7 separate regions of the Homo sapiens genome follow, and regions 2, 3, 4, 5, 6 and 7 are each reported to be linked to region 1. The links are microRNA targets in miRTarBase. Many come from high-throughput screens and were not tested one by one. Region 1 holds a microRNA gene; each other region holds the end of a gene's coding sequence.
What was found. Region 1 holds the annotated microRNA hsa-miR-557 (GUUUGCACGGGUGGGCCUUGUCU, at 1,272-1,294, shown strand). A microRNA usually pairs through its seed, bases 2 to 8, with sites in the 3' UTR of a target mRNA and lowers its output. Matches are read on the target gene's strand: a 7mer-m8 pairs with bases 2 to 8, a 7mer-A1 pairs with bases 2 to 7 and ends in A, and an 8mer does both.

Region 1 (4,368 bases):
TTTCTCTTTGGAGGTGTTTGGTCAATTGGCTCTGAATTCTAAACCCTCCAGTCAGGTCAGGCCTGACTTTTAGTGCCCCTGTGTTTGGAGAAAATCCTGGGCTAAAATCCCCCAATAAGGCTGCTGCCTTGGGATCAGAGTCTCTGGGTGATCTCCCCTGGTACATAGCATCACCTAGGGATCTAATGCTTAGCAAGGACCTGAAGAAGCATTACTGGTTCATTATGGTTAGGACCTGTCAGAACAGAGCTGACGGCTGTCAAGGCCTCCAGGGCAAAGAAAAGAGCACATATCATACATGTTATTTTTCCATGTGCCCAGGCAGAAAGCTCACCTCCCCAGGAGGAAGCTGGGCTGGCAGAGGTCCTCATTGCTTGTGTGTGGCACCTCCTAACGTCAGATGATTGCTTTTGGTTCTGTTCTGCTAGAGATGTGGCAAGAGCTAAATTTTTAAACATTCCTAGTTTGCAAAGCTTGGGTACTGTGCCTGGTGGTTGCTGATAATGCAGGAGACATCCAGGCCAATTTTTACTAAGTGAATATGAACAAGAGAGGGCCCTGAACAGCAAGATCTCCACTGGGGGTCATCAGGAGGTAGGCTGCACACAGTGCCCAGCTGGCTTGTTAATCCAGCGCAATTTAACAACTGTCTGCCGAGTGCCTGTTGAAGGCCTGGGGCGGGAAGGTGAAAGGTAGGCCCACCTCAAGTTGCTCGTGGATAGCAAATTCTTCTTTGATAAAAGTGCTGAGAACTCAGCTTTATCATGTATAAAATGGAAGTATAGAAACCTAATGGTGTCCTTGGGAGAATTTAAAGGTACAATGCATGTAAAGTATGTTATACATGCCTAGCCCATAGTAGGTGCACATTATTTGTTGAAGGGATAAATGAATGAAAGTGAATCAAAGGAACAAATATGAGTCAAGCATGCATATTGTGCTGATAGGTAGTAAGTCTGAGCTAGTATTTTAACCCACTTCCAGGTGGGGGAAGGTGCAGGTTAATTTGGGATGGGCTGACCTATTACATAAGTCAGAGAGTGTGAAGGCTGAGAGCTGATGATCAGAAATGGGTCTCAGAGTGTTGGGTTGAGTTGGAGGCACACAGCCAAAGTGTTATCGGACCAAGGGGGCTTTGGGAGATTCTTGGGAGCCAGGGCCCAGCATTAGTGGTGATCAGAAAGGCAGGGCCAGATCAAGGGTGTGCAGACAGAATGGGCAAATGAACAGTAAATTTGGAGGCCTGGGGCCCTCCCTGCTGCTGGAGAAGTGTTTGCACGGGTGGGCCTTGTCTTTGAAAGGAGGTGGAGAAAGGAAGCTCCTTCTATGAGGCACTTAGATTCATTTCTATCTTCCTAGCCTGAGCACAGAGAAGTATTATATTAATACATACTGGTTTAAAGGTTGTTTCTCTTTCCACTGCTTCCACCAGTTTACAGCTTAGCCTAAGAGATAAGGGTGTAGACTGCGAGCCAGGTTCCTCTGTCTACCTCTGCTCTGCCTCTTACTAGGTGTGCAGTCTTACTAGGCAACCTCCTTCTGTCTCAGTTTTCTCATTTGTTAAATATGAATAATACCTCATAGGGCTGTTATAAGGATTGGATGAGTTACCATAAGTCAAATGCTGAGAATAGTCACTCATGCATTGTAATTTCTCCAGCAACTCTTAGGCATTATCATTACCTTCACCACTGAAATAAAGATCCATAGAACTCTGGCAGGTAACCAAGCAAGAGAGTCCTGATTGGGAGGAAGGACCTTTGGATCTCATCCTACAATGTTGTATCCTAATGCCTAGAGCCTGGCGCACAGTAGGTACTCAATAAAAATTTGTTATTGTTGAATTGTATAGAGTGGGGTTGCTGGTGCAGGGTAGGGAAGGAAGGACAGGACCCAGGGTCCTTTAGGCAATTGCCTGACTTCGGGAAAATGAGGCAGAAAATTGGTGAGGGTCTCCGGACTTGGGACCCAGGCACAGCTGGGATTCTGGGGCCACAGACTTGGGGACTGATCAGTGTGGGGAGCAGGAGAGGCAAGGGAGAGGGAAGAGTGAGAATGACTCTGACTGTGGCCAGCTCCATTCTTGGATAGGCAGAAATCTCGTGTTGAGTCTGTAATCAGCTCTTTAACTTGCATAGGATAGGAGTGTTGGGTCAATATTTCTGGTTATCAGGAGTCTTTTATGTAAAATGGAAATGATAATACCAAAAATATGTCCTGCTTTTCTAAGTCATATGTTTGTTAGTAAGTATCAAATAAGGCTATACCTGTGAAAGTGCTTAATCAACTGTAAATTACCATGGAAATATTATGACCAGTATAATTTTCTATCTCATTGAAACCTTGATTCCTTAGCATGTCTTCAACTTTTCTGTCTCTGGGATATTTGCATTTTCAGAGAGAGTCTAGAAAAAAAGCCTTAATTATGTCAACGGAATGAATGGTGAAGACTGAAATATCAGAAAGGTGCTTCTGTGCCAGAGAACTTTCTAATCCTGCACACGAGTACTATGATCGCTGGGAGAGAAGAGCCAGGGAAGAAGGTTTAATAAAAGGGTGGCTGCAAAATGCTTCTAATTTCCATTACTGCTAACCTCCACAATTCTGTCTGTCCTTCTTTTTTAATCTCACTAAGTTGTAAAGTGTCACAGAGGGTCAGGATGGGAACTCTGTCCGTGAGGCTAAGGTGAAGGCAGGAATTGGCCTTGGGGGACTTCTGTCCCCAGAGAGTACAATGCCTGTTGCTTTTAAATATCTCTTATAAATAAATTGAAAATATCATGTTGCAGTAATATTGAATCCACTTGTACACATGCAAAAATACCTCCAATGAACCCTCCAGGGAAATATTCCCCTTCAACTTCTTTCCTTGTGCATGTAAACCTCTTTTTTCAATATTGATCAATCTACGTACAGCAAATCATGTATAGCAGGAAGCAACCCCTTCTTTTTTGAAAGAGGGAGTGTCATTCTCTTTCCATTTGGAAGATGATTGGGAGAGATAAGTTTGATTCTTATTTCCCACAGTTTAGTGAGGAATGAGTGGAACAAACTAAGGAAGGTTTTAGTTAGGGAAGTAACACAGTTCTGTAGAGAAATCACCACCTAGTTGCATTTAAGGAGCTGTCAGCCTTGAAAGTTAAAAGAGTGGACTGGGCGCCGTGGCTCATGCCTGTAATCCCAGCATTTCGGAGGCCAAAGTGGGAAGATCGCTTGAGCCCAGGAGTTCAAGACCAGCCTGGGCAACATAGCAATACCCTATCATAAAAAAAAAAAAAAAGTTAAAAGAGTGAGTGAATTTCAAGTGCTTCCTGGCAGGTGAGGTATCCGCTGTTTATCCTCACACAGAAATGTTTTCTACCCTCCTTTTCATTGACTATCAGAGCTACCTGACCAGAAGAATTGCCCTTATGCATAATTTCCCTCTCAGCTCTCTTTCTCATGGATGTTGATTAGTTAATGCGTACATTTGCTTAAAGATATTAATTGAGCAGTATTTGATTTTATAGTATGGCTTTTAATAGTAGCAAAGTGTGTGGGTTCTGCTAAAAATTTACCCCCAAATGCAAAGTCTCTTTTCTCTTTGCACTCAATTTTAAGGAATTCCATTCAAACATTGGTAAGAGAATACATTACTGCGAAGATGCAACGATGAGGACGGGGCAGCAGAATGGGGACAATGTGGCTGGGGCATGGGGTCAAGTCCAAATGAAGAGGTCAAGCTATTGAGAAAACAATTGAGGGCAAGATTGAGAGAAGTGTGAAGGAAACAAAAGAAGGGGTGAGTTCCAGTGCATGTGTAGAAATGAGGATACAGACTCAGATGATGCTGCACTCACAAATTCTTGGTAGGGAGGGCATCTTGAACCTAAGCACAGCTTGTCCTAGGGTCTAGACATGAAGAATGAGAGAAGGGCCTGCTGGGGATCTTTCAGCATGAGGACATGCTTCTCAACCTCCTCCTGTTCATGGTCTACATAGAGAATGATCGCCATGGTATGCCACATTGAGGTAAACTGAGGGGCTGCTGTCTGCACAGGGGGTCTGGCTCTGCAGCTTTTGACCTTCAGTGCCAGCCCAGCAACCCTGGAGACTTCAGGGGAAGGATATCTCCTGGCACACCAGTGATCTATCTGCAGCATGCTTGTTGGAAAGCTCTGGTTTGGGGAACCTACTTGTCTTCCCCAAGGGAGAGAGAACTGAGCTACACAAGCTTTTTTTGAAGAAGGCAGGTGAATCACGAGGTCAGGAGATCCAGACCATTTTGGCCAACATGGTGAAACCCCGTCTGTACTAAAATTACAAAAATTAGCTGGGTGTGGTGGCACGTGCCTGTAATCACAGCTATTCAGGAGGCCAAAGCAGGAG
Region 2 (4,368 bases), not on the chromosome of region 1:
ATACATCCCCTACCATGCTAGGCACCCAGCAAACAGAGCAGAAAGGACAGACATGGCACCTGAGTCTAGTGAAGAAAACAGACAGTGACAGGCATATGATAAGCACTTTGATAAATGAGGTACATGGGGCACATGGGGAGTTCACCTAACCAGGTGAGACTAGACCAGAAAGCCTTCTCAGATGAAAAGATGTCTAAGCCAAGACCTGAATGATGAGTAGGAATTAGCCATTCCACAAGAGGGGAAGAGGGGCGTAGAGTAGCAAGAGTTGGAGCTGGATGGACAAATGTGGGCCAGATTAGGAAGGACCTTCTAAACCATGTTGAAGAGCCTGAGCTTTATCCAGAAGCATGTGAGGTCCTCAGGAGGTTTTAAACAGGGGAGAAAACAGACTATCTACTACAGTTTCACAGAATTTATTCTTTGAAATTCCTACCACTGAGATGGGATATATGCTCCCTCCATTTGAATCTGGGGGGGCTTGGGACTTTAGTGGAAGTGATGTTATGAGACTTCTGAGACTAGGTCATAAAATGTAACTGCTTCTGCCTGGTCCTCTTGGGACAGTCACTCCTAGTACCTAGCCACCATGCTGTGGGGAAGCTATGTGTAGACATGTTCCAGCCCCAGCACTAGCTGAGGTCCTAGCATCAACTGCCAGAAATACTAAGGAAGCCTTTGAGATTATGCCAGTCGCGGCCACAATCTGATGATGACTATAACTGCATGAGAACCCGAATAAGAACTGTCTGGCTGAGCCCAGTCAGTACTTAGGATAATGAGAAATAACACAATGACTGGTGTTGTTTAAAGTCACTGAGTTTTGGAGTGTTTTCCACACAGCAATCAATAACCAGAACTATCCCTGATATCACCTAATTAAGAAGATATCTTTTTGTCTCCTTCTAGTAACTGTGCTGAACTCATCATACTGATTTCTGGGACTCTGGAGCAACAGATATCTACAGTAAGTAAAAACAATCTACAAAAGCACATAACAGAGTTAAGGAATAAGATGTTCTGTCCAATCAAATATTTTCATTAACAGGATAAGTAGGCCAGGTGCGGTGGCTCATGCCTGTAATCCCAGCACTTTGGGAGGCCAAGGCAGGCAGATCACTTGAGGATAAGAGTTAGAGACCAGCCTGGCCAACATGGTGAAACCCCATCTCTACTAAAAAAATACAAAAAATAAGCCAGTGTGGTGGCACACAACTGTATTCCCAGCTACTTGGGAGGCTGGGGCATGAGAATTGCTTGAACCCAGGAGGCAGAAGTTGCAGTGAGCTGAGATCACACCACTGCACTCCAGCCTGGGCGACAGAGTGAAATTGTGTCTCAAAAAAAAAAAAACCCCAAAGCAGAAAAAAACAAGTAAATGATGTAGGCAAACTACTGCTTATAAAGAAACATCATTTTTTCAAAGGAATTACTGAGTTTTAAAGAATGAAATGCCTATCATAACCTATACTGAACACTGTTTTATTGGACTTTTAAGACTTTAAAATCATCTATTACTTTGGGGTGAACATTATGCATATAGCTACCTCTGTACTGAGGTTTCTGGGAACAGGTGGAATGGACCAGTTTTTCCAGTCGGCTGGGCAGCAGGGATTGGGAAGCTTGTTGCTATTTACTGCTCACAAAATTTGGTTATTTCGCTAATGAATGGTTGTTAGCTAACAACCAAGGCCACACTCACCCACAGCACTGGAGCCATTTGAACTGTGAGAGTTGGAGAAGATGAAAAGTAAGCTGGGGGGACAGGAAGCATGCCCTATTATTCCCTAAGACTGAAAGTGGAGAAATCCAAGCACTTTTTTTTTTTTTTTTGCATGTGCAAAACACCAGACACATACAGAAACAATTAGGATTCTATGAGGGCAGAGAATTTGTTTCTCTAAATGGGGCTGTTCAATGTTTCACAGAGCACAAGGACAAGAAATTCAATATTTTTGAGCAGAAGGAAGAACTCATTTGTTTTTATAATTCCTTAACTAGTTTCAAACATATTGCATGTACTATGTGCCAGCCACTATCTGCTTGCTTTATATTCCCTATCTCATTTCATCCTCACACCAAGCCTAAGAGGTCGGTACCATTATCCCCATTTACCAAATGAGGAAACTGAGGATGCCCAGGGCCACACAGTAATGGGGGCCCTTAGTATTCTGTTTCTTAAGAGCTGCTCCTTTTTCCCCTCTGAAAAGAGATAATGTGGTACAGTGGGAAGGATACTAGACTAGGAATCTGGATTCTAATCTCAGCTCTACCACAAATCAATTATACCAATGTGCGACTCTCATATGCGGATCCTGTCCTCAGGTGGGATTGTGATCTCAGACCTGGATTCAGCAAACACCTGAAGCTGTGACTCTCTTACTGGGACACAGTCTACAGTTGAGATTGGGCCTCTCTTGCATGGATCGTTTCCTTAACCTGAAAGATGAAGGAATTAATTAGGAGACTCAGAAGACTTCTCCTAGTCTACAATTTCTGACTCTATAATCCTTGCCTTAGAACAACAACCAAGTGAACAGTCTTAGTTTTGGAGGTGGCAATGAAGAGTCTGCAGCAATCTTGGCAGACAGCTCCTGAGGTCTGAGCAACCCTCTGGGCTTTCTGAAACAAAAGGAGCAAGTGAGGTGGGGTCACTGTGTATCTTCTGCTCACTGGTGACCAGACACGGTAAAATTCAACACATACTATATTTGAGACCATAAGTATGAAGCAGCTTTGAACTGCTCTCATGGCACATTTTTTTTTAATATGAGGCATTCAAGAGAGAAAAATCATTAACAAATAAGATAAACTATAGGACTAAATATTTATTATCCACATAGAAACCAAAGCATTATGTGGTTTTTAGTGGCACTTATTTTGAAAAGCACATGGCTTACCCATGAACAAAGCAGTAGTCATTTAAATTTGGCTTACTCAGCAGTCCTAAAGGCTAAATTCTGGTTTTGTTTGTGCTGCTGAGAAAACAAAACAACCACAATCCCAGCAAGTTTCCTTATGAACCTTATTTCTCTTATTTTTGAGAAAATATGATCCTACTAAACCTTGAATGAAGATTTCAAATCTATATGCAAAGACACATAGGCATTATTGTTTTGCAGATGGAAAAATAAGGGCTCAAGTCATAGACATATATGATGGCAGAGCAATGAGAAAATCCTGGGCTGTTTTCTAACATGGTAAAATAGGGTTTCATACCTCCTGAATTCAGCAAGGATGTAATTTGCAAGTAACTACTCCTTTGAAAATCAGAGTTATCCACACTTGTAGTGAAATTCATTCCTGATGGTGCTTACTGGGTTCCACTCTGGTGTCGGAAGCTGAACCGGAGACTGACCAGGTTCCTTCAAGGATCCTCAGCCATGCAAAAGGGAAGCGCCTTTCTGAGGGAGCCAAGCTTGCATCTAGACCTTCACAGTGGTGCAACATAACTTCTCAGAGATCGGCATGGTACCATTCAGTGAATTTGGGAATTTCAGGAGAAGACCAAGTGTCAGCACACTGTCTGCTGAAGTGCGATACCTGGCTTCTTAGGAAAGGTAATAACTCACTAGAAGCAGGCCCCTCAGATCCATAGGTGGACTGAAACCAGGGTTACTCAGCCAACAGGGACTGGCTGAGTGGCTGGAAGGTGCGACGGCTGACCATCCTCTTGTTTAATAGCAACGTGTGAGATTTCCTGTCCCTGGGGGTGTGGCAGAGCACAGCATCCAAAGAATCAGTGGTGACCTGGCCAGTGATGTGCAGTGTCCCATAGATCTCATCAAATTTGGCCACAAGGGCAGGCACATCCTTCACTTTTTCCCTCACTTTGGCCAGCTGGAAAAAAGCAAGAACACATCATTACATCTCTGCAAGATTTCTTCCTTATTCTTACTATAACCCTAAGAAAAAGAAATGGACATGAACAAAAATGTATGGTAGGCCAGGCGAGGTGGCCCATGCTTTAATCTAAGCAATTTTGGACGCTGAGACAGGAGGACTGCTTGAGCACAGGATTTCTAGGCCAGCCTAGGCAACACAGTGAGACTTTGTCTGTAAAAAAATTTTTTTAAAAATTAGTTGGTGTAGTGGGAGGATCACTTAAGCCCAGGAGACAGAGGCTGCAGTGAGCTGTGATCGTGCCACTGTACTCCAGCCTTGGCGACAGAGTGAGTCTTAAAAAAAAAAAAAAGTATGGTATACACCTAAAATCGTGAAAACCAGGGTACTGGGGCACACAGACAGCAGTATTACTATGAGGGATTCCAAAAGCTACACACAAAATTCAAAATTAGTACTTGAAAATCATACCTAATATAAAAAAAGGGGGGTTCAAATAACACATCATATATAATGAAACACACC
Region 3 (4,368 bases), not on the chromosome of region 1:
CTCTCAGCCATGGTGACAGGGTCACTGAATGAGGGAACAAAAGTATAATGAAGAAGTGGAGGTGTGTGGATGGAGTGAATAAGTGAATAGGGTAATTAGGTAGGTGAAGAGAAGAAATGGGGAGTTTATTGATACCTAAACGAGTGAGTTACAGTCCACTGGACTTGGTTCTTTCCATTGAGTCCTGAGCCCCAGGCCAAGAAATAAATTTACTCCCCGACCACATTTCCACAAAGCTCCTGCCATCACTTTCTTTTCAGCAGGAGCCAACTGGGACCCAGAGCACTTGGTGCCCAGAGTACTCAGGAGCAGACAGGGGCTGGGGACCCACTGTGGGTCAGAGCTCACCCTCCCCGTTCTCACTCACCCTGGTGTTGCTGAAAGTCAGCTGTAAGGCATTTGGAACTCTGGGGAGACCATGATGTGCAAGACAGATGCTTTCTAGGGCCAAGACACAAAAGGCTTTGCCTCCAAACTAGTGATAAGGAATCAGAATTGTTTTGAATTAAATTTGGAGACTTGAGGTACTGGAACTAATCCGCCCTCCTCATGACAACCCAGCTTCCTCCACACTCATAAAGGAGGCATCTTTTGGCTCCAGCAGACACTGATATGATTGTAAGAACTCTGCCAGGGATGGTGCTACCTGGGGGCAGCAACTATTCCTGCATCAAGGCTGCATGGCCTCAGCAAGGCACAGCATCTCTTTGAGTCTCTGTGTCATCTGCAGGCTGGAATATTACTCTCCTTGGAGGTGCATGGTAAGCATCAGATAGGAGGGGTGGGTAAAGGGCCTGGCACAGTGCCAGGCAGATAGTAGGTATGCAACAGAGAACAGCTAGAGTGCTCATGACTGATCCTTGAAAGTTAAGTTTCTTCTCTGGTGAACCAGGCCCAGTCGGTCTTCTAGGGTTCTTCTTTCTATTTATATCTGTCTTCCTTCTTTCACAATTCCATCCAATTTTGGGATGTCAGCTCTCATCCCACCTCCTCCACAAAACTGTCTCTGTTCTTGGAACTCTCTACCAACAACGCCCACCATACTTATGGTGTGGCCCAGTGAACATGGAAGTGAGTGGTTAAGAGGAGGGGGGTCTTCAAGCAGAGCTGCCATATATGGCTGCACAGGTTGGGCACTGCCCAAGTATAGGGAGTACCATTCACATACACTGTAATGGGAGTGGGGCCCCAGTGAGTTGTAATGAAGAGGCTCTCTCTGTAAGCCAAATGGCCTGAGTTTGAATGTTGGCTCAACCACTCAATTGCTTGACAAAGCAAGGTATGTAACCTCCTAAGCCTCAGTTTCCTCATCTGTAAATGGGATGTTATTATGGGGTAGCTGATACCTACCCCATAATATTAGGTAGTTGAATGAGTTCAGAACAATGCCTGGTGCATACTAACATTTACTGAGCCCTTCATTGCATTATCATTATGATTAGAGTTGGTTTCTCATCATTGCATGTGTGGGTGTCTTTTCTCTCTGAGAAGGCTGTGAGCAACCTGGGGACAATGAGTCACTGAGAAATTGCAGCAGCTTGGCCCAGCACCTAGTGGGAGGCAGGGCCTCATGCTGTCCTCTCTCTCAGGATCCTACTTCATCTTTCTTTTTGCCAAAATTCACTTGTAATAGGCCTTTTTTAGTTACAAATCACAAAACTCTAAAGCAAACTAGTTTAAGCCAAAAGAAGCCTTTGTGGGCTGATATATGTGGGAAGTCTAAGGGAGGATCCGGTGGCTTCAAGAATAGCTGGATGCAGCACTTCTCCATCTCCTGGCTCTGCTTTTCTGAGCTGGCTTTATTCTCAAGCAGGTTTTTCCCCATGGGAGGAGAGCAGGTCACTGGGGTAGACTGAGTTTATAGTCTATGGCTTATGGTCCAACAAGAAGTGGAACTCTCCTCTCAGCATCCACAGAGCAATCTTATGGAGGGCCTCGAGTGACCCAGCTTGGGTTACATGCCTGCTTCTGGGACTAATCATTGTGGCTAGAGGGATTGGCACTTGACTGGCCAAGCTGGGGTCATGTGTGCACCCTAGTTTGGCAGTTGGACAAGAACCATGTGTGATGGGGAAGGAACATTTCTCCAACAGAGAGGTGCTGGGTATACGAGAATGTTGGCCATGTTCGCCCTCCTTCTTTATGGCTCAGTTCATAGGTCACTTCCTTAGGGAATCTTACCCTCCCTTCTCTCCTGCGTGGACCTCAACCTTCCCACAGTAAATTGCAAATTATTCCCTGATTCTCTCAGACCAGTCTGGGAACAACTTGAGGCAGGTACCAGAGCATATTTATTCATCTGTGTCCCTTAGGCCAAGCTTCCTGCCCCAGCTGTGGAAGAGACGTTGTCGGTGGTCTATCTAGCACTCACTTCCCTGTTTCCTACTCAGATCTTGTTGGGTTTTACTCTCTCTCCACCACCTTGATGGAGTAGCAAACTCCACTCTGACTGGCATAAAGCCATTACAGTCTCCTTTGCCACAGTGACTGAGGAATGGGCATGTGAGACTGAGTTTGGGCCACTGAAACATGATGGTATCTGGGAAAAGGCTTCTTGCTTCTGTAGATGGGCCATGGAAGCCCGCTGGCTCCGGCTCCCTCCTGTGCTGGATGTAAATGAGGAAGCATCTGGCCCCAACTGCTCCACTGCCACACTACAGCCAGAGAAGGACTCACCTTAGGCAGAGGTCGACACTGTGGAGGGCAGTGTGGTGACCCCTAAGAAACCTGGACCCTTGGGGGAGGGGGGAGGGAAAGCATTAGGAGATATACCTAATGTAAATGACGAGTTAATGGGTGCAGCACACCAACATGGCACATGTATACATATGTAACAAACCTGCACGTTGTACACATGTACCCTAGAACTTAAATTAAAAAAAAAAGAAACCTGGACCCTTGATGACCCTGAAGAATTGCTAGATTGGCTAACCGTGAAGGCCACTCTGTCCCAGGACTGCCCATCCTGCAGCCAACACATTTCCTTACTGTGAATCCACTTTGAGCTGGGGGGGCATTGTTACGTGCAGCCACAAGTATCCTCAGAAAGAGGTACTCAGAAAGTTCTCCCTGACTGAATGCCATGGGTTAGTGGCCATGGGCTGAGAGCCACCAAGCATACCCCCCACAAACCTTACCACCCACACTGGTTCCTTCCTCCCCACTGTAACAGACATTCAAAGACTGGATGCTTTTTTTGAAAAACCACAGCAGTCACTTTATTCTTAAGTTTGCACTTTACAAAACCACAAGGGAGAAGTCCTTGAAGGGGAGACAGGGGTAGGGGATTAGGGAGTGGGGGATGGTAAAGAGGGGAAGAGGAAGACCCAGAAACGAAGTCCCCTCCAACCCCATCTCGGGGACCAAGCAGAGACTAGGCCTCAGGCTAGCCCAGCAGGGCTTCCTGTGTCCTGGTTGTACAGAGCTAGGCCAAAAGACCTCAGGGGAAGGGCCACGGCCCTCTAGAGACTGCCGCCATTTGAGGGACAGCCACAGGCCAATGTTTCCTGTGCCCAAAGAAGGAAGTGGGCCTCCCTTCCCCTCCCCTAGGCCAGATAATCAGCCTGAGGCAGGGGTGAGGGCTACCCATCCAGCAGCTTCAGGATGCTCTCACGCTCCTTCAGAGTCTTCCAGGCCTGGTCCTTTTCTTTCTTGGTGGGAGTCCGCTTCTTCTGCCGGGCAGCCATGATCTTGCGAAAGGCGTCCATGACCTCGTTGTCAGCCATGCGCACCCGCTGCCTCAGCTCCTGCCGGCTCACCTCCTCCTTTGCCAGCCTGTGGGGACCAGCCAGCCAGGTGCCAGGGTCAGCCCACCTCCAGAGAACAACCCCTCCCTCTTCAAGACCGAGCCTACCCACCAGCCCAGGCTGGCATGCCTGTGGATTGTGTCATACAGTCGTGACCAAAAAGCAGTTACTGACCTACACTTACATGGCACTATCTTAAGCTCCTGAAAAATATTAACTCATGTTGATCACGGGGGAGGCTGTGCACATGTGGGGACAGGGAGATACGGGAATTCTCTGTACCTTTCTCTCAATTTTGTTGTGAACTTAAAACTGCTCTAGAAGAATAAAGTCTTGGCTGCACATGGGGGTTCACATCTGCAGTCCCAGCACTTTGGGAGCCCAAGGCAGAAGGATCACTTGAGCCCAGGAGTTCGAGACCAGTCTGAGCAACATAGTGAGACTGTCTCTACAAAAAATTTAAAAAATTAGCTGGGTGTGGTAGTGCACACCTGTAGTCCCAACTCCAAGGGAGCTGAGGATTGCTTGAGGCCAGGAGTTCAAGGTTACAGTGAACTATGATCATGCCACTACACTCCAGTCTGGGCAACAGAGCGTGACTGTGTCTTCAAAAAAAAAAAGG
Region 4 (4,368 bases), not on the chromosome of region 1:
TTAATTCTTTTTCTAAAGAGATCAGTCTAACCTGAATGTGATCCTGCAACTTGAAGACCTTTTGTACTTATTTGCTAGAACAAGAAGATCAGCAGCTCTTGTTGCTCCTAAAAACACTGCCTAATAAGCTGTCATCTTGGGAAGTTTCCCAGTCTGTTCAGCCTCTAAAAAGGCCTTTATCCATTTAAGAGGAAGCAGGAAGTTAGAATTCCAAGAAATGCAGGTTGGGAGGCCACAGTCCAGGTTCAAATCTAAGAAGGTAAAATTCTTAATCACTGGCAAATCCAAGTGGAACTTTATTCTATTGACAATCCACCACCTTCCCTCCTGTCATCTGATTGGCTTTGATGATAGATACTGTCTGAAGTTAGTGATGATCTCTAGAGAAAAGGAAAGTGTCCTGTTAACCTTGCTATGCACGGTGAAAAGGAGAAACGAGAAGGTTTTGGTTTCAAATGCAATGACCAACATCAAGGTCATCCCAGCACTTTCATGAGACCATCAGAAAACTCAATGTACATCAACTCTCTCCATTTAAAATTCTGCGTGTAAAGCCTTTGGGATTATAAATAAACTTTGGCACTGAGGGTGGTGACAGGCTTTGTCACATCCTATTCCAATCCAGATTTGAGTATTATTTGAGTGTTCAATCTCCTACCACTTGAGCCAAAGTTTGAGGATACTCATAATTCACAATTCAGCTATGTAACCCATCTTTTTTTTTTTTAAGATGGAGTTTTGCTGTTGTTGCCCAGGCTGGAGTGCAAAGGCATGATCTCGACTCACTGTAACCTCCGCCTCCTGGGTTCAAGGAATTCTCCTACCTCAGCCTCCCACGTAGCTGGGACTACAGGCACCCACCACTATGCCTGGCTAATTTTGTTTGTATTTTTAGTAGAGATGAGGTTTCACCATGTTGGCCAGATGGTCTCGAACTCCTGACCTCAGGTGATCTGTCCGCCTTGGCCTCCCAAAGCGCTGGGATTAGAGGAGTGAGCCACCGCACCTGGCCGATGTAACCCATCTTCAATGGTAGTCCCAAGACAAACACATGACCGTTAACTTGCTGATTTCTCCAACGGAAAATATCGAATTAGCCAATCCTTTCTATGCTGTAAGGGTTTTCCTAATTTTTTTAGAAAAAATAAATCAGTATAAAGAAAACACAATTTAAAATAAGGTCTTGCGATTGCTTTAAAGAAAGCTTTATTTACTACATACATCCTAAGAATGTACTGTAAATGGAGCAAGATCTAAATAAAAGCTTTTCAAATATAAAGCAGCTAAAGTTAACTAAACCACTAGCAATGTTTGAAAACAGAACTCTAAAACTTTTTTTTTACATTTATATAGTTTGTTCTTAACACTAAAAAAAAAAAAAGTTCACATTTCAAGTTATAAACTTACCTCAGTAGTGTACATGAAATGGTTTTGAAACAATAGGAACAGATAAGTCCCAGATAGGAGGCTCACTGATACTTAATTGGCCATGTCACCAATGTTTGTTTTTAAGGGAGTTTGGTGGTTGCCATGTTATCATTTTTTTTTATTCTTTCTTTCTTTTTCTTTCTTTCTTTCTTTCTTTCTTTCTTTCTTTCTTTCTTTCTTTCTTTCTTTCTTTCTTTTCTTTCTTTTCTTTCTTCCTCTTCTTCTTCTTTTTTGCAAATAATTTACAGGCATATGTAAAATACAGTAAGAATACTGGGTCATAGTTTCATCCAGTGAAACTCTGTGACAATCCTTCACTAGAAGGAGAGTACTTTTTTCACACAGTCAGGGGATGAGGATCTGATCCGAATTACATTTTGTCGAGTCACTCATTCCCACAGATTTGAGTTTGAATGCAGCTTGTGGGGTACATCATCAGGAACATTGCACAATTATTTTATGTCATTTAAAAGAATGATGGAAAGGAATGTTAGCGGTGCTTAAAGGCCTCAGTAGGCACTCAATAATTTTATAGAATAGTTAAATAAATATTGCTTACACATAAAAACTCATCTCATTTCAAGATGAGGGGGAAAAAGGCATTTGGGAATCTCTTAATTTAAAACAAAACAAAAGTACTTGCTAAGGGCATGATCCTCTTATGAATCCACAAGAATTCAGCCATCAACAAAAATCCCGTGAGTGGAAAATTGTATGGATCTCTAACATGACATAAAAACGCAACTGCGTTTTACTTGCTACCTTATTGCACACCTCACTTCCTTGATTGAGCCTTTAAAAAACAATTCCAAGTTGATATTTTTTTTTAAAAAGTAGATGACAATCTTAACATTTTACTGTATTTTACATTCACTCTGCTAAACAAAAGCCTTTAAACAGGCACAAAACACTGCAACAATACATTAACTTCCTAATAAAACAAACCTTTTTAATAACATTGAAATAAAATGGTTTCATTTTGCATTAAACTACATACCATGAACTTCTCCAACATAAAAGGACTAAAAACAAGCATTAGAAGATATTTACAAACTATCTTTAAACTTCTACAGGTCTCTCCTCCTCCTCCTGGATGTGCACACCCCAATCCAGTTCACCCATCAAGTGCACAGCAAAGGAAGAGAGGCCCATTTAATAAACATAATGTTTCCAACACCCTTGAGGACCATGGACAGTTTTGCAAGAAACATGGTAAGGCAACTAGAAGCATAACTTTCTGCTGAAAAGAGTCTCTGGGGGTCTTGTCTACGATAACATACATTCTTTGTCCCTACAAACTCATACTTCAAAAATGAATAAAAGCATTAGAAATGGCATTAAAGTTTTACATTGGGCAATTAAATAGCTATGCAAAGGTGTCTTATGCAACTCGATTAAAACCTTGTGCTTACTCTGCTACTGAAAATAGCACACGTAGAAGACAATACTTCCCCAACCAAACAAAAAAAAAAACAAAAAACAACGAAACAACAAACCCCAACAAAAACCCAGGAAGAAGTATAAAAGCCACCAGCTCCTCTATCAGAGCTACTTATCAGTCCTAGGCTTGCCAAACATTGCGGTGGGATTGGGAATCTGGGGAGGAGGGGACAGGGTGAGAGATGTGGGAGTGGGGGCATGTTTAAGGCTAAGGCACATGGAGAATGAGCCCCGGCTAACGGTGGCAAAGGAGAGCTTTCCAGTGTTTGGACTCAGAAGTGCGGCAAGTCTTTTCAATGTTGGCTTAAGGAGAGATCCAGTGTTTAATTTCTTTTAAAAAATAGTACCGCCATGATGATACATGGTAACACCATCAACCCTTAATGCCAGCAGAAATACAGAGGTTTTACTCATTTTAAAATTGCACTTTCCAGTATAACCTTTAAAATAATGCTTTATGTAGTATTTTTAAGCACTACTGTTTGTATCTTTAAATATTGTATATATTTTTCAAAATAGTTCCCTAGCTCCTCAAGTGTGCTTTTTTAATATATAGTTGATATATTATTGAAGGTACTACAAAATAGAAATCTCTGGAGTGCAGAAGTTAAGAAAATAACCTTCATACTGAAAATATATCCTTAAAAAAACAACAACAAAAACCTCTATACAAATGTAGTACAGCATACAAATTTTTAAAAGATGGAATGAAGGCACGAACCATTGCAAGTCTTTTGGAAATGTATGAACGTAGGCATGCTAAGTTGAAAATAGTCTTAAAAAACTAGTGAAAACTTCATGTATATAAAATAATTCAGAAATAAATCTGCTAACATTCTTCACTTTCAGGTTGCATGTGTGAATCCAACATGTTCCTTCTTCATAAATAGTCAAGCGTTCCTTCAGTGGTGTTTGTGTGGTCTGTCTTCGTGCTGGTCACCAGCCTCAGTATGTCTGGTAGACGTCGGGGATGGGGACCTGAATGGCAGCAGCAGGGAAGGCCTGAGGTATGTAGCCTGCGTATCCTCCATACATGGCGGCCGCGGCTGCCGCGTTCTTCTGTAGTGTGGCGATCGTGGCTGTAGCTGGAGCAGCAAATGGCACGTAACTGGCCCCGTAGATCCCGGCAGTAGGAATTCTCTGAACGTTTGGAGCCACCGTGTATACTGGAGTTATTGGGCGGCCCTGAGGAGAAGAGACAAAAAGGAGCCTTCCTGAACACGTGTATGTACCTATCATCCATTCATTCAACAAGCCTCTCCCAGAAGACGGGAATACAAAGACACAAAAGCAAGGGAGAGAAAGGCAGAGGGGCGGGCAAACAGCAATTATTGTAAGCAAGTGGGAGAAGAGCCACTGAAGAGGTAAGGTGGAGCTGCATCCTCAAACTCAGTGATGCCACCTTGTGAAAGTGAGAGGCCTGGAAGGCTGAGGGAAAGGTGAAATACAGTTGCCCCTCAGTATCCTCACAGGTGATTGGCTCTAGGACCTCCGTGGATA
Region 5 (4,368 bases), not on the chromosome of region 1:
TCTTTGAGTGTGGACAAGACGCACAAAGGTCATGCTCATAGGAGCATTTTGAATCTCAGATTTTCAGATTGGGGTGCTCAATTGGAATGTATATGCAAACATCCCAAAATCTGAAAAAAAAAAAAAAAAAATCTGAAATCCCAAACACTTCTGACTCCAGGCATTTCCGGATAAGGGATATTCAACCTGTACTTCAAGGTGGTGTTTGCCTTTGTGGTGTGGTGTGCTGTACATTAAGAGGTTTCTCATCCAGAAAGGGGACTGGAAATTTGATGATGGAAATTTGAGGCATGTACCAAAACACATTAGGCTGGTTCCCAAAGGAAATAACAAAAGCAAAGGAAGCATGCGGAGGTGTCTCTTTCTGCTGAATCATTTAAGATAATTTTGCTCCTCAGGCAGAAACAAGAAAGATGTGTCATTCTGCACAACCGTTCCCTTGGGAGATTGAGGAGCATAATTTAAGAGGGAGGCATCAGCCTCTCAAAGGGCTCAGCTTCATGCGATATGTGGGATGGGACTCTGATGATTGCTTCCTGTTGCGGAGATTCAGGGAGACCCCAGCCCTAGCCAGCTGCATTTGGCCAAAGGAGCTGGAAGTCTCAACACAATGCCTTCCAGGTGCTGACCTCAAAAGATCCCACATTTACACCAAACTGAGGGACACCTTTCTGTTTTCTCTACCAGGCACCGCCTAGAATCCTTCGATCTCGCTTCAGGAAGAAAAGTACCTCATCCTCGGCCACCGAAACCACGTGAGTGAGATGAGCCAACAGCACCGGATCCACAGAATGTTTCTTCTCTGCCTTAAAGAGCTATTCACTAATAACATAGAAATCCGCAAGCTGGGTGTGCTTTGAGTGTGCAGCCTCACAAACATGGCCTTTTCTCTCTCCCCTTCCACTTTTAAGGATTTATTTTTTTCCCCCTTTTCTTTATTTTGCTGGGGAGAGGCTAAAGGGAAAGGTAGTAGGGGCGGGGGTGGTGACCTTTAAGTCTTCTGAGGTTGGTAATTTTCCACAATTGGATTGTCATTATAGACAGCAGTGTGTTTTTTAGAAAGATAAGAGAATCACCCCTATGCTGCTGAGATGTACATTTGTAATTTATCTGTTGCATACTTAGTTTTTAGTCCTGTAAATGCAAACACAGCATTTTTTACAACTTTCTTTGTTCTTGGTACTTATACTTTGAACTATGATGTACATATTTATGGCTTTTGGCTTTTAATATAATGGACTTGCAAGGGCTGCCAGAGGTTCTGATATGTAAGAAAACTGCAAAAACAAATATAGACAAATATTTTGATTCTAGAGAACGTCTCAGATGTGCTTATAAAGCTTCCAAATACAACTCCAGTAAGACATCCCTTTCCCTGCAGGAGTGTGGTCTATATTCTTTAGATAGTTGTTTAGTCAAAAGACCAGACAAGTTACAAACTAAGAGAAACAATATTTCACAACACAGTAAAGTGTGATGAGAGGTCAGGGGAACATCCCAGTAAAAGAGAAGAGTCACAGGAAGCTCATCTCCTCCCTGGATTCTGGATTAGGAGCTTCTGAATCTTTTCCAGGGATAGGCAGGTAGCTCACTCTTGGTGCAATTTCTTGAGGATGGGAACATGTAGAGCTGCTGGAAGGAGTAATTCTGTGCTTGACAAAGGACGATTTCTCCTTTATCGTGACCAGTGCTGCCGATTTCCTGACAGAGGAGCTTACACTCTGAGCACCTTGTTTTAGCGAACTCTAGCAAAACTTGTTTAGCTTAGCAAAAACAAACACACAAAAAACTGAGAACTCTGCTGTTTCAGATATGCCATAACATACATCTGAAACACATGTGTAACAATCAAAATGGTGGGCTCTAGAATGGTTTTGGAGCTCGAGATCTTCATGGGTTAGACTTGCTGGTCAGACCCAGGAGCACCTGTGGCTCACACCTTCTGTTCCCCTCCTGGCCTGTGCAGAATGTAAACAGCAGACTCATACTCAATGGGCACTACAGGCCTTATCAGACGTTTTATACAAGCCTGGATTGCTTAGTAGGGGAATAAGGCATTCTCTGAGGGGGCTTTCCACTTAGATTGAGAATTTTATTTGAAAAGAATCTGGTTTAAATGGCATTGTGGTCCGAGGTAGCTGCTCTCCCCACTGAGAGCTGAGCCGAAATATAAGAATAATATATTTGTGCTTCGAGTTGGTGTTTCTTTCAGTGTAATGCATGCAGTGGTCACAACCCAGTTACTCATAATATTTGGATTGTATTTGTTCGTAGATATGCCCAGAAGACTAGAGAATTAGTGTTATATACCATATAGAACTTACTGTCAGTCAACTATAAACAGGCCCAATTAAAAACTGTTCCATTACTACGCAAACACATATTAGAGGCCTTTGCTGATGACACATTAGCTGGATCTTAGCCACCCCAGAAAGGGTTTGATTTGAAGCTGATTGTTGCCAGATATGCATATTGGAATCCCATCTACCCATAGTTCCTCTGAAGGTGATTTTGTAATTTGCAAAAGGGTATAGGAAAATATACCTAAAAGCGAATTTGTGGCTGAGAGGATAAACAGAAGCTGTTTGCTCATGTTCTGTGCCCCACACCCACCAATACCTAAATCTGTTAAGGAAGACAGAAAATGTTTTCTTTGTGCTCATTGAGTAGTTCCAGACAGAAGAAGAATATACTCTTTAAAATGTATTTACCTGTTAGTTGGAAGTACCCAGAATTATCAGAAACGAATGCAAAAAAAAAAAAAAAAAAAAAAAGCTTACACAGCTTCTTAGCAATTTTTTTTTTTTTGCCGAAACAATAAATTGCCTTTAGCAGCAGTTTAAAATCCTATCGTGAACAACCTATATTTTCGCCATTTTACAATGGAGAGTTGTGACAAGTACAGGTTATCAAGTTTGCACTTAACTATGCCAAAAAAAGTTTGAAGCGCTCTATTCTCAGACATGCTGTATTATTACTTCTCATTCAAGATTGAAAAATATAAAGGTATCCAAACTCTGTCTTAATGTAAATGTAACTATTTTTCCTTCAAGTGTTGACTAGGGAGTCGGTTTCTCTCTTAAAGACACTCACTGTACAACTGAAAGCAGCTGTCATATTTCTGGCAAAATGTGTTTACGTATCTGACAAGTTGTACATTTGTGTATGAACTGACATAAAATGTGAAAGCCTGTAAGTGTACATGTAGTGGTGTGGTGTTCTGTCTAGAGGATACAACTGAATGTTTTTAATTTGCTGACTTACAGACACAGGCTGTTTACAAAATGCTAGCTGGAAAGTCTGTAATGTTCATGTCATAACTTTTAGTTAATTGCCATTGAGCACCTGTTCTGAGGAGGTGAGATGTGGACTTGTGCTTATAAACTGGAGAGTTTAGTCATAATCCCTCCTGGCTTTGTGTGAATAGCTTGCTCACTTTGCTGGCCTTTGAAATGTGTTCTCCGTGATAAGCTATCCATGTGTTTGTGATAAGAGTGCTTGTCAACCATGACCATCTTTGAGCCTTCCTAGTCCTCCACCTGGCACAGTATTTGAAATGGCAAAGGATGTGCTTCATCCTCTAACAGTGTACACTCCCAGAGCTGATATTCTGGATTTTGACTGTGCACATTTCCTCTAGTTCATGTCTGTAGTCCCTATAGAATGATCTGTAATAAAATAGTATACTGGACTGTGCATCAAAGGGATGTAAAATTACAGTATTCCAAAGGTTGAAGTTCTGCTGTTTTGTTATAATGCCTGATACACATCTTGAATAAAGTCTTAACATTTTTCTTTTAAAAAACATCTTTGTAATGTTGGGCTTAAAAGGAAACAGGAAATACTTTTTTTCAAATATGGGAGGTAGCAAGGATTAGAAGCTGAGTGTTCAGCCACCGACTGGCCTGGTGACTTGGCCCCGTGCCTGTTGCATAGGATGTTGAGAGGGAAAGAAAACCAGATGATATAAATGTTTTGAAAACCAGTTCATCACACAACTACAAACCTGAAAGTATCACTGTTTATTTCACATTTAAAAAAATCATCGGCAGAAACTAGGTAGCTGTGAAAATAGAATAGTCCACTGGTAGAGTTTCAATTGTGCAAACAGACGTTTGGTCCATCATTTTTCTTCTCTGAACATTTCTTCATCTGCAAATGGGGGAGTGCCTGTGCAGGTGACAACAGGGTGGTGAAGGGCCACCCTTAAACCTGCTGCAGCCCTTACCTTTCACATCTGAACAGGCAGACTCAAACTTCATTGGGTGGCCACAAAGACTTGGAAGCTCAAAATTTGAAACATCAAAATTAAACACAGACCCAATTTCTTTGCATTTTTAGTCCTGTATTCTATGTTTGACAAAATCA
Region 6 (4,368 bases), not on the chromosome of region 1:
CTCCTTCTTTCTTACATACAAAGTACCACTTTCTACTTTTTGTACTTTGCTTTTTGCATTTAATATATCTTGAAAATAACTATACCGATTCATAGAGATCTTCCTCATTTTTTTTATAGCTCAATAATATTCCATCATGTGGGTATGCCATTGGTGCCATGGTTTACTCAGGCTTTCTCGTGTATATGAACATGACTTTGCTTCCAATATTTGCAGTCTCAGTGCTGCAATGAGTAATCTTGTGCATCTGTATGTTTGTACTGTTGGAGGTGCATCTTCAAGGGAAATTCCCACAGTGGAAATGGTTGTGTCAAAGGGTAAATGCTTCTGCAATTTGTTAAGTACTGACAAATTCCCCTCCAGAAGTCATACCAGTTTGCATTCCTACCAACAGTGATGACAGTGTGTTTCCCTATAGCCTTGCCTAACAGAAATGTGTTGTTCTTTCTTTCACCAGTCTTAGAGATGATAAATGGTATCTCAGTATTATCTCAATTTACATTTCTCTAATGAGTTAGTTTGAATATTTCATTTTAAAGAGCCATTTTTATATCTTTACGTGAGTATGTTCATGTCTTTTCCCAGTTTTTCTATCAAGTTTTTGGTCCTTTGTCCCTTAATTTTTAATTCCTTATATAGTAAGAACACTAACTGTTTGTCTATTATATAGGCTGGATAAATTTTTCTCCCAGTCATTTGATTTTATTGTGTTTTTACTAAGCATTTTTATTATCTTCATGTAGTCAAATGTGTCAATATTTTGTTGCCACTGGATATTTCCACCACGTTTCCTTCTGTATTTATATGGCTTCATTTTCTTACATTTGGATCCTGGATCCAGATGGAGTTCATTCTTGCATATGGTGTGAAGTACAGGTCTAACTTCAACTTTCTCCAAGGGGCTTTCCAGTTGGCTCAGCACCATTTATTAAAGTCTGCTTTGACCTGCGATTGAAGATGCCACCTTTAACTCCTCATCCCCCACCCCTAAGAAACCTCACGGAACATATGACCCAAGAGCAGAGCAGACATAAAAAGATTAACTGAGCTACTGAGATTCGGTCAAGAATGTGAACTAAAAATGAACTGTTGAGAATAAGGCTGGAAGATCCAACAGAGGGAAACGGCTGTGGAGGTCATTGCCAGGTGAGGTGTCAGATCCCCGGCATTGGGAAGTGGTCAACTCGTGGGTTGGTAAAAAGAATTCACCAACAACAGTATAGGTTTGAAAAAGGAAAGGTATTAGAAGAATGCTGCAGAAGACTGCCATGGGGCACCTCGGTGAGAGGACTGAATGTACCACGGTGGATTTTTCCTTAGGGATATTTATGGACCTTAAAGCGGGACCGTGGGGTTGCAGTGAGTTTCAGCATGGCATTCCGGAGATGTACAGAAATTTTAGTTACTTCTAAGGTTTTTTTCGGGGAAAAGAAATCTGGAACCAGATGCCTGCTTTAGATAATAGGAAAGTCTAATTACTTTTAATTTTCCCCAAATAAGGCGTTTTGCCTCTGCATGGCCTGATAGTCACCAGGTGGTCTTTGCTCCCTTTTAAATTCCTCAGATAAAAAGATTTTGTCTCTGGGACCTGTTCAATGGTCACTAGGTGATTTTTGCTCTCCGCAGTCATGATGTGATGGAAAGCAAAATAGCAAACAAGGGAGCTGGATGGCGATGAAGCAGAGACAACAAGCAAGCTCAAGCTCCTGCAGAAGGGTCCGTCCCTGGAATCACCTCGGCTCACCTGTACCGTTCCAACAAACCCTTCCAACCAAAAGAGCCCCACCCCAAAAATGCTTTTGAAATCCTGAGATGTGATCAGTGAAATATGCAGCCAAGGCAAGGGGAAACTGTCCGCAAGTTAAAAAGATTTATTGCTATTCCAGGCTTCAAATGAGCCCAGAACTCAGGGCTGGTGTGTGTTTCAGAAGTTGTTATGATGTAACAGGGTGGTAGAAAAATCCAGGCAGTTTGATGTCGAGGCCACCCTCTCTTCCTTGGACCCCTGCTCCAAAAGCAGCTGCTGGTGAGGCTCTTTCCCATCTGCCTCATTCACCCAACAGGACTCCAAGACTGAGGCAGGCAGCCTTGTGATCCCCACAGCTCACAGGTGAGAGGCTGCTCATACCTCTCCTAGCACTGGAAGAGCCTTGTCCTTGGGACCGGACACTATGGCTTTGGCCCTGTGGAGGGAGAAACGGTGCCACAGGAGTTGTCTTAAGAGGACAAGGCATGCACGGTCTGAGATCAGAGGTTGTGACGTGGCCACCCATGAGCCAGTCCGTTTGGGACACATCACACTGCACAGCTTTTTAAAAAAATAATTAGCTGCCAATCTTTTAAAATGGTAAGATTTCATATACAAATCTGGATTTTTGGCTTCTCTAGGAGTAAACATTGAAACTTTTTTTTTGAGACAGAGTCTCACTCTGTCACCAGGCTGGAGTATTGCCAGTATCTGGCAGTTGTCTTCACAGACTGGCTATGCACTCTCCAACTGACTCCAGTCCTTGCCACCCTTAATTATATTTCCAACTGGAGACCAGGCCTCAGCAGCCTTGTATCAATGGGCACATGTGCTGTGACTTTCTGTGTAAGAAATATTTACATTGTAATAGCATCTTTAATCAAAAAGGAAAAATCGGCTGGGTGTAGTGGCTCATGCCTGTAATCCAGCGCTTTGCAAGGCCAAGGTGGACAGATCACGAGGTCAAGAGATCGAGACCATCCTGGCCAACATGGTGAAACCCCATCTCTACTAAAAATACACAAATTAGCCGGGCGTGGTGGCAGGGCCTGTAGTCCAAGCTACTTGGGAGGCTGAGGCAGGAGAATTGCTTGAACCCAGGAGGCGGAGGTTGCAGTGAGGTGAGATTGCACCACTGCACTCCAGCCTGGTGACAAAGTGAGATTCTGTCTCAAAAAAAAAAAAAGCGAAAAATCGAAATCAAGCCTGGAAGCAACATGTTTCTCACGGTTCTTATCAGTCATTTAAGTCTCTTGCTAGGCCCTGCGGGTACCTGAGTTTGTAAACAACAGAGCACTCCTAATATCTCCCCCAAGGGATTCCTCCCCCACACACCCTACCTCTCCAGGATACACTGCACCCTAGTATTAATTGGGCAAATCTAGAAAGGAAATAAAAATTAGTCACAGAAGTTAAGGGAGGAATAGACTAAGAGCAAATACTTTTGCCCCTTCATTGTAACAGGGGGCCGGAGGAGAACAAAAACGTTAATACTCTCACTTCGCTTTTAACTTAGTGACAAAAAAAAAAAAGAGTGAAAGAGAGAGAGTCATAAAGATTCTTCAGGTCCTAAAACACTCTGGTTCCCATTCCTTAACTGCTTTGGAAATGAACGAGGCTCTTTAGAGAGAATGTTAACGGGGATGAGTAACGTGGTCAGCCCAGCAGATGCCCTGGGCTATCAAGAACTGTCCAACTCATTCTCCCTTAGGTCAGGGCTGCTTGCCCCAGCCTAAAATGTAAGTGGTACAAAATGATTTTCAGTGAGGGTAGTGGACTCACTGTAGAAAGGGGATTAAAGGGGGGCAGAGAGTGGGAGTTTGGCCTTGGCAAACACAAAACAGAGGAAAAGGGACCTTCCTCACACCGCTCCATTCTGCTGTGGCAGATGCCATGTTATATGCCCTTTAGAGAGGCAGCGATCTTGATGCAGCCCAGACGCTTCCCACTGCTGCTCAGGACGCTCTCTATGCGGTAGTTCCCGGTGGTGAGCCAACTGGGCAGCTCCAGGTCAGGCACAACGAATTCGCTCTTGGGCAGTGAGTAGGTTCCCTGCGGGAAAGCCAGTGGACCGCCAGTCAGTGGGAGCCTACTGATGGGGTCTTTCTCCTAGAGCCACTGCTAGGATTGCAGCCATGAACTACCACCCCTCTTCCCATTCTCAAAACAGCCGCACAAGATGAGAGACGGCCATAGCACTGTAGAGCATGGATTATTATGGATAAAGGGCCCTGAAGATCACATCTAAGTTCAAGTCTCCCATTTCGTAGATGGATAACTGAGGCTCCCGGAAGATAAGTGATTCCTGATAGGTCACACTGGCTTACAAATCCAGAGACATGCAGATCTGCAGAAGGAGAATGCAAAGACCCTTCTCTCCAAACCCCATCTCTTTAGCCACAGGGGTAACGCTCTCTCCTCCCTAAGTACTTACTTCTTTGAAGGGACAGTGGCAAGGAAGCCCATAGGTACGCAGGGGCTCTGGGCAGGGCTCCCCAGTAGGAATTAACATGTCAAGCACATCACAGAAGTGTTCAAAGGTACAGCTGCCAATGTAGTCTGTGCATGGGATCTTGATCCAGAGGCCAGCCACCTCCTTCTCCAAAACTAAATCCACCTGG
Region 7 (4,368 bases), not on the chromosome of region 1:
AACAATTATAAACATTTATTAAGCACCAAGAATATACTGTGGTGGTTGCTATATGAAAACATAATTACCAATATAGTATCCCTGCCATTGAGCTTACAATCTAAAACGAAATACAAGGCTATGAGCCTATCTAAAAACTTCCTTAACTTAGAAATGGCTACTTTGGCAAATGAGTGAGGCAAAATGACCTATTATTCAGGTGCAGTGCTAATAAGGCTTTGAATATCATCCAAAGAATGTTTTACTTGTACCCATTGTTCCTGATTATGTTACACTTGCTAAGAAAAACAGTACTTAGAATTTTGGCATGAACAATGAATTATTTCAAATTGTCTTGTAGGACTTTAAACAAAGAGATGCTTACTGGCCTAAGTTTTCCAGCAGCCAGGGAAAGCCCTATTAAAAATATTATGAACTAGACCAAGTTTCTCTTTTAATCCACTTACACTTTTTTTTTTTTTTTGAGACGGAGTCTTGCTCTGTCGCCCAGGCTGGAGTGCAGTGGTGCAATCTCGGCTCACTGCAAGCTCCGCCTCCTGGGTTCAAGCCATTCTCCTACCTCAGCCTCCCGAGTAGCTGGGACTACAAGCGCCCGCCACCACGCCTGGCTAATGTTTTTTTTTGTATTTTTAGTAGAGACGGGGTTTCACCTTGTTAGCCAGGATAGTCTGGATCTCCTGACCTCGTGATCCGCCCCCCTCGGCCTCCCAAAGTGCTGGGATTACAGGCATGAGCCACCACGCCCGGCCCACTTACACTTTTTAAACTTCTTCCTCTTCTCCTATACCTAAGGGCTCCAATGATACTACTTATCAGGGAAGAAAGTACTGTATCTAGATAAACTACCCTTAAGTATTACAGGCTTAGCAAGTTGAATTTCTAGAAAATACTCATTCATAATTTATTTATTTATTTTTTTTGAGACAGAGTCTTGCTCTGTTGCCCAGGCTGGAGTGCAGTGGCGTGATCTTGGCTCACTGCAAGCTCTGCCTCCCGGGTTCCCACCATTCTCCTGCCTCAGCCTCCCGAGTAGCTGGGACTGCAGGTGCCCGCCACCACGCCCGGCTAATTTTTTTGTAGTAGAGATGGGGTTTCAGTGGTAGCCAGGATGGTCTTGATCTCCTGACCTCGTGATCCACCTGCCTCGACCTCCCAAAGTGCTGGGATTACAGGTGTGAGGCACCGTGCCTGTCCACTAATTCATATTTTAAAAGAGGACTGAGCAAAGACAGCAATGGAACCTCTGGCTGCAGGAGATGCCTGGGTATGCCTGATATGTAAACAAACACAAGCAGTCGAGTTCAGGCCATGCATCTTCAAAGTGACGAAGAATATATGTAAATGCTTGTTTTTCTCCTCCATATTTCTCGTGTAGAGGTATATGAGAATTTAGCATCAAGACGCTATACTGCAAACCCTGTTCTGTGTTGCCTATATTCATAGCATAATATTTAATAAATACTCCCAAGGTTGTCATTGCTGGTCACATATTAGCTGACAAAGGCACACTGAAGGGACTTTGATTCTTACTGTAAAATGCAAAGATTGTTTTAAACTACTCAACATATACAATCTTAAACTATGTGATGATTATTCTCGATCATTTATGATAATTTCAATTCTAAAAGATTACTAAAAAAAATTGGTTGTAGGGTATCTGAAAACAAAAATAGAATGTACTCCATAAAGTACATGCACAGAATTTTTAAAAATGCAGGCATACAAATATTTAATGGCAGAGTGGTAATAACCTGAGACTTTTTAAAAATGGCAAAACAATATTTCAGCAATTTTTGGAAAAAAAACCCAAATATTTTCCCTAAGAAGTCTCTCTTGGCAACTTTCTTTTTAAGCAACAAAGCAGCAGCAACATTTTTAAATGTTCATAAAGCTCGCTTTCCATTAACAAGTTTATTAAGGAAGAGTGGTCCTGAAACTTCAGGATAAAACTTTTGATAAAAATAGAATCACTAATTTTGACCTAAAACAGACACTAAAACACCCCTCCTTCCAATTTAAGAGTGTCATTTATACCTCCTACTTACAGTAAATAAATCAAATTAATTATAAGATTTCAAATGGAAAATCTGAAACACATATCAACATCATTTTCTTCTAATAAGATAACAGAAATTAACTTCAATGGATTTCCCCAAAAAGAGAATAGTTTCTAAAAACTTAATTACAGCTGTGGTAAATGAATCTGGGTTTACCAATCTCAGATCTCAATGCACTTAGTTTTAGTTGGTATTCTGTGAGATGGCTAGAATTCCTGATTTAAGTATGTAGTATGTATGTTTTTAAGGCAAGGCAAGTTTGAGTATGTATAAAGCATAGATATTAGCATGGTTATAAAGGCAATATGACCGACATACACATTCAGTTTTCTGAAGCAATATATTCCAAGCTACATACAATTTAATTTCATGTCCTATTCTAAGACTACATGCTTAACATTAAGCTTAGAAACATAATTGCTGTAATACATTAAAAATACTTCATTTTCCAATATTGTAAAGTATATTTCCAAATACCTGGTATAAATTTTTTTTTGCACAAAAATTTAAAGGACATCCTACAGCTAGCTATTACTACTGCGTTAAGTAATCATTTGAAGGAAGAATTCACAAGGAGAGCAGGTTATAAAACTAAGCATAATAATTATTGCATTTAACTAAAAAAAATCAAGTAGTTCTGAATTACACTTGTTTTTTGTCTTAGTAATGTGCATATTCACTTTCTAGCTACTAGTTTGATAAATATACTAAGATTGTATAAGATTTGTTTTTCTTGTTTTTGTTTTTCTTGGGTGGTTATTTTTCTTTTCTGTGTCCTTCCCCAACAGCAGTTGGAATTTTCTTTTGAACACAAAGTAAATTAATGTTTATACTGTTTTTTCACCTGAGTCATGTAAAAGGTGACTCCTTTCATTTTAAAAAGTTATATTTAATTTTTGGGGGCCTTAATTAAAATTTAACATTTAACCATGTGTTTTTTTTTTGTAAACAGTCTACATGTCAACAAATGGATAAGGGTTAACAAAGGCAAATACTGACTTCATTTGTGTTTTAAACACGATTATATGAATTTTTCTTTTTTAATTAAAAAAATGACATAAAACCATTCATATAGGTCCTCTTCTCTCAACTGCTTTGAGATATAGCTTTAAATATGGGTAGATCAAGACAAGTAATGTTGGTAATCTCTTATCTTGCATAGAAAAGAAAAAATAAAGGAACTTATTTCCTTCCTAAGGTCTCAGCTAGTTTCTTAAGTCTTTTCTTCAGCTCCAATGGAAATTTCTCATAGCACTTCTTACAGACTGGCTTCATGTCAAACTCCACAAACTTATTCCTAAAGACAAAAAATTATAAAAAAAAAGAAGTTAGTGGAAACATATTCAACAAAGATATATAAATGATGTGCAGTAATTGTACTGAACTAAACGAAGGCAACTAGGTGATGATATTATATTCATGTTAGTAAAAAAACCATAATCCTAACCTCAATTCTTATTGTGATATATATATAAAAATTCAGTATAATTTTAAAAAAAAGTCCTTATAAATTGGTTCTATACATCCATCTGTGTAACACAGACTGTAGATTACATTTTATTCAGTACTAAGTAAACAGGAAATCTAATGTAAATATAATTAACTTAAGTACAGTCAATCACTTTTTTTTTTTTTTTTTTTTGGAAACAGAGCCTCGACTGTCACTCAGGCTGGAGTGCAGTGGTGATCACAGCTCCCTGCAGCCTCTAACTCCTGGACTCAAGCCATCCTCCCACCTCAGCCTCCTGAATAGCTGGGACACAAGTGCATACTACTATGCCTGGCTAACTTAAAAATTTTTTTTTGTAGAGACAGGGTCCTGTCGTATTGCCTAGGATGGTAATCACATTTTAGAATACCTTAAAGATAAATTTATCTAAAGGAAAGAATCATATTTTTATAATGTGAATGATTTCTTTATTGGAGGCAACATGATCTTACTTAGTACTTTAAATTAGGTAGCCATGAGGTTTAATTAATTTTAAATTATAAGGGGTTATTTTGGTTATCTGACAGAAAGGTTGGAAGAAAGTTTTTAATCACTCTTAACATAAATGTAACCAGATCACCTGTGGTTGCATTGTAAGCGGTAGCTATTTGAAGAACTCAACTATTCTTTTGAAAAGCTAGAGCAACACACATTATCAATTTATTTTTAAAATGGTCCTGGAGAAGACAACTTTTCAGATAGCCTCCTGATCATCTGTAATGCATTTCCAACAGGTAATTACAGGAGCTTATTACTGTTGAAATCCAGAGTGTTTAATTTTGAATTGAGTAAATATACAACTTGGTAACTTGTTCACTGTCT

Region 2: miRTarBase lists PTCD2 as a target of hsa-miR-557. Seed matches in the 3' UTR shown: 7mer-A1 at 3,115-3,121 and 7mer-A1 at 1,830-1,836.
Region 3: miRTarBase lists TADA3 as a target of hsa-miR-557. Seed matches in the 3' UTR shown: 7mer-m8 at 3,230-3,236.
Region 4: miRTarBase lists RBM47 as a target of hsa-miR-557. Seed matches in the 3' UTR shown: 7mer-A1 at 2,625-2,631, 7mer-A1 at 2,406-2,412 and 7mer-A1 at 1,658-1,664.
Region 5: the mRNA of REEP1 is a reported target of hsa-miR-557. Seed matches in the 3' UTR shown: 7mer-A1 at 1,279-1,285, 7mer-A1 at 2,520-2,526 and 7mer-A1 at 2,749-2,755.
Region 6: the mRNA of GM2A is a reported target of hsa-miR-557. The part of its 3' UTR that is shown has no 7-base or 8-base seed match.
Region 7: miRTarBase lists LIMS1 as a target of hsa-miR-557. Seed matches in the 3' UTR shown: 8mer at 2,550-2,557.

Annotation. Positions count from the first base shown.
Region 1 is chr1:168,374,313-168,378,680 of GRCh38, forward strand. MIR557 (microRNA 557) reads left to right here and starts at 1,212; the gene lies at 1,212-1,309.
Region 2 is chr5:72,357,675-72,362,042 of GRCh38, reverse strand. PTCD2 (pentatricopeptide repeat domain 2) reads right to left here. Exons shown (of 10, transcript NM_024754.5): 10 at 1-3,840. The coding sequence ends at 3,616. Among named protein-coding and RNA genes, the nearest start is that of PTCD2, 39 kb to the right of the region's middle.
Region 3 is chr3:9,776,776-9,781,143 of GRCh38, forward strand. It overlaps TADA3 (transcriptional adaptor 3), which reads right to left. Exons shown (of 9, transcript NM_006354.5): 9 at 3,192-3,774. The coding sequence ends at 3,582. It also overlaps a transcript of OGG1 not described here. Among named protein-coding and RNA genes, the nearest start is that of CAMK1, 9.0 kb to the left of the region's middle. RefSeq lists an enhancer at 1,370-1,664.
Region 4 is chr4:40,422,091-40,426,458 of GRCh38, forward strand. It overlaps RBM47 (RNA binding motif protein 47), which reads right to left. Exons shown (of 7, transcript NM_001098634.2): 7 at 1,190-4,053. The coding sequence ends at 3,814. RBM47-AS1 (RBM47 antisense RNA 1) reads left to right here and starts at 4,043. Exons shown (of 2, transcript NR_199039.1): 1 at 4,043-4,092. RefSeq lists an enhancer at 3,332-4,368.
Region 5 is chr2:86,213,430-86,217,797 of GRCh38, reverse strand. REEP1 (receptor accessory protein 1) reads left to right here. Exons shown (of 9, transcript NM_001371279.1): 9 at 688-3,805. The coding sequence ends at 759. MRPL35 (mitochondrial ribosomal protein L35) reads right to left here. Exons shown (of 4, transcript NM_016622.4): 4 at 4,008-4,368. Among named protein-coding and RNA genes, the nearest start is that of MRPL35, 16 kb to the right of the region's middle.
Region 6 is chr5:151,266,727-151,271,094 of GRCh38, reverse strand. GM2A (ganglioside GM2 activator) reads right to left here. Exons shown (of 4, transcript NM_000405.5): 3 at 4,182-4,364; 4 at 655-3,799. The coding sequence ends at 3,644. Among named protein-coding and RNA genes, the nearest start is that of GM2A, 16 kb to the right of the region's middle.
Region 7 is chr2:108,682,871-108,687,238 of GRCh38, reverse strand. LIMS1 (LIM zinc finger domain containing 1) reads right to left here. Exons shown (of 10, transcript NM_001193483.3): 10 at 1-3,354. The coding sequence ends at 3,240. Among named protein-coding and RNA genes, the nearest start is that of LIMS1-AS1, 6.5 kb to the right of the region's middle.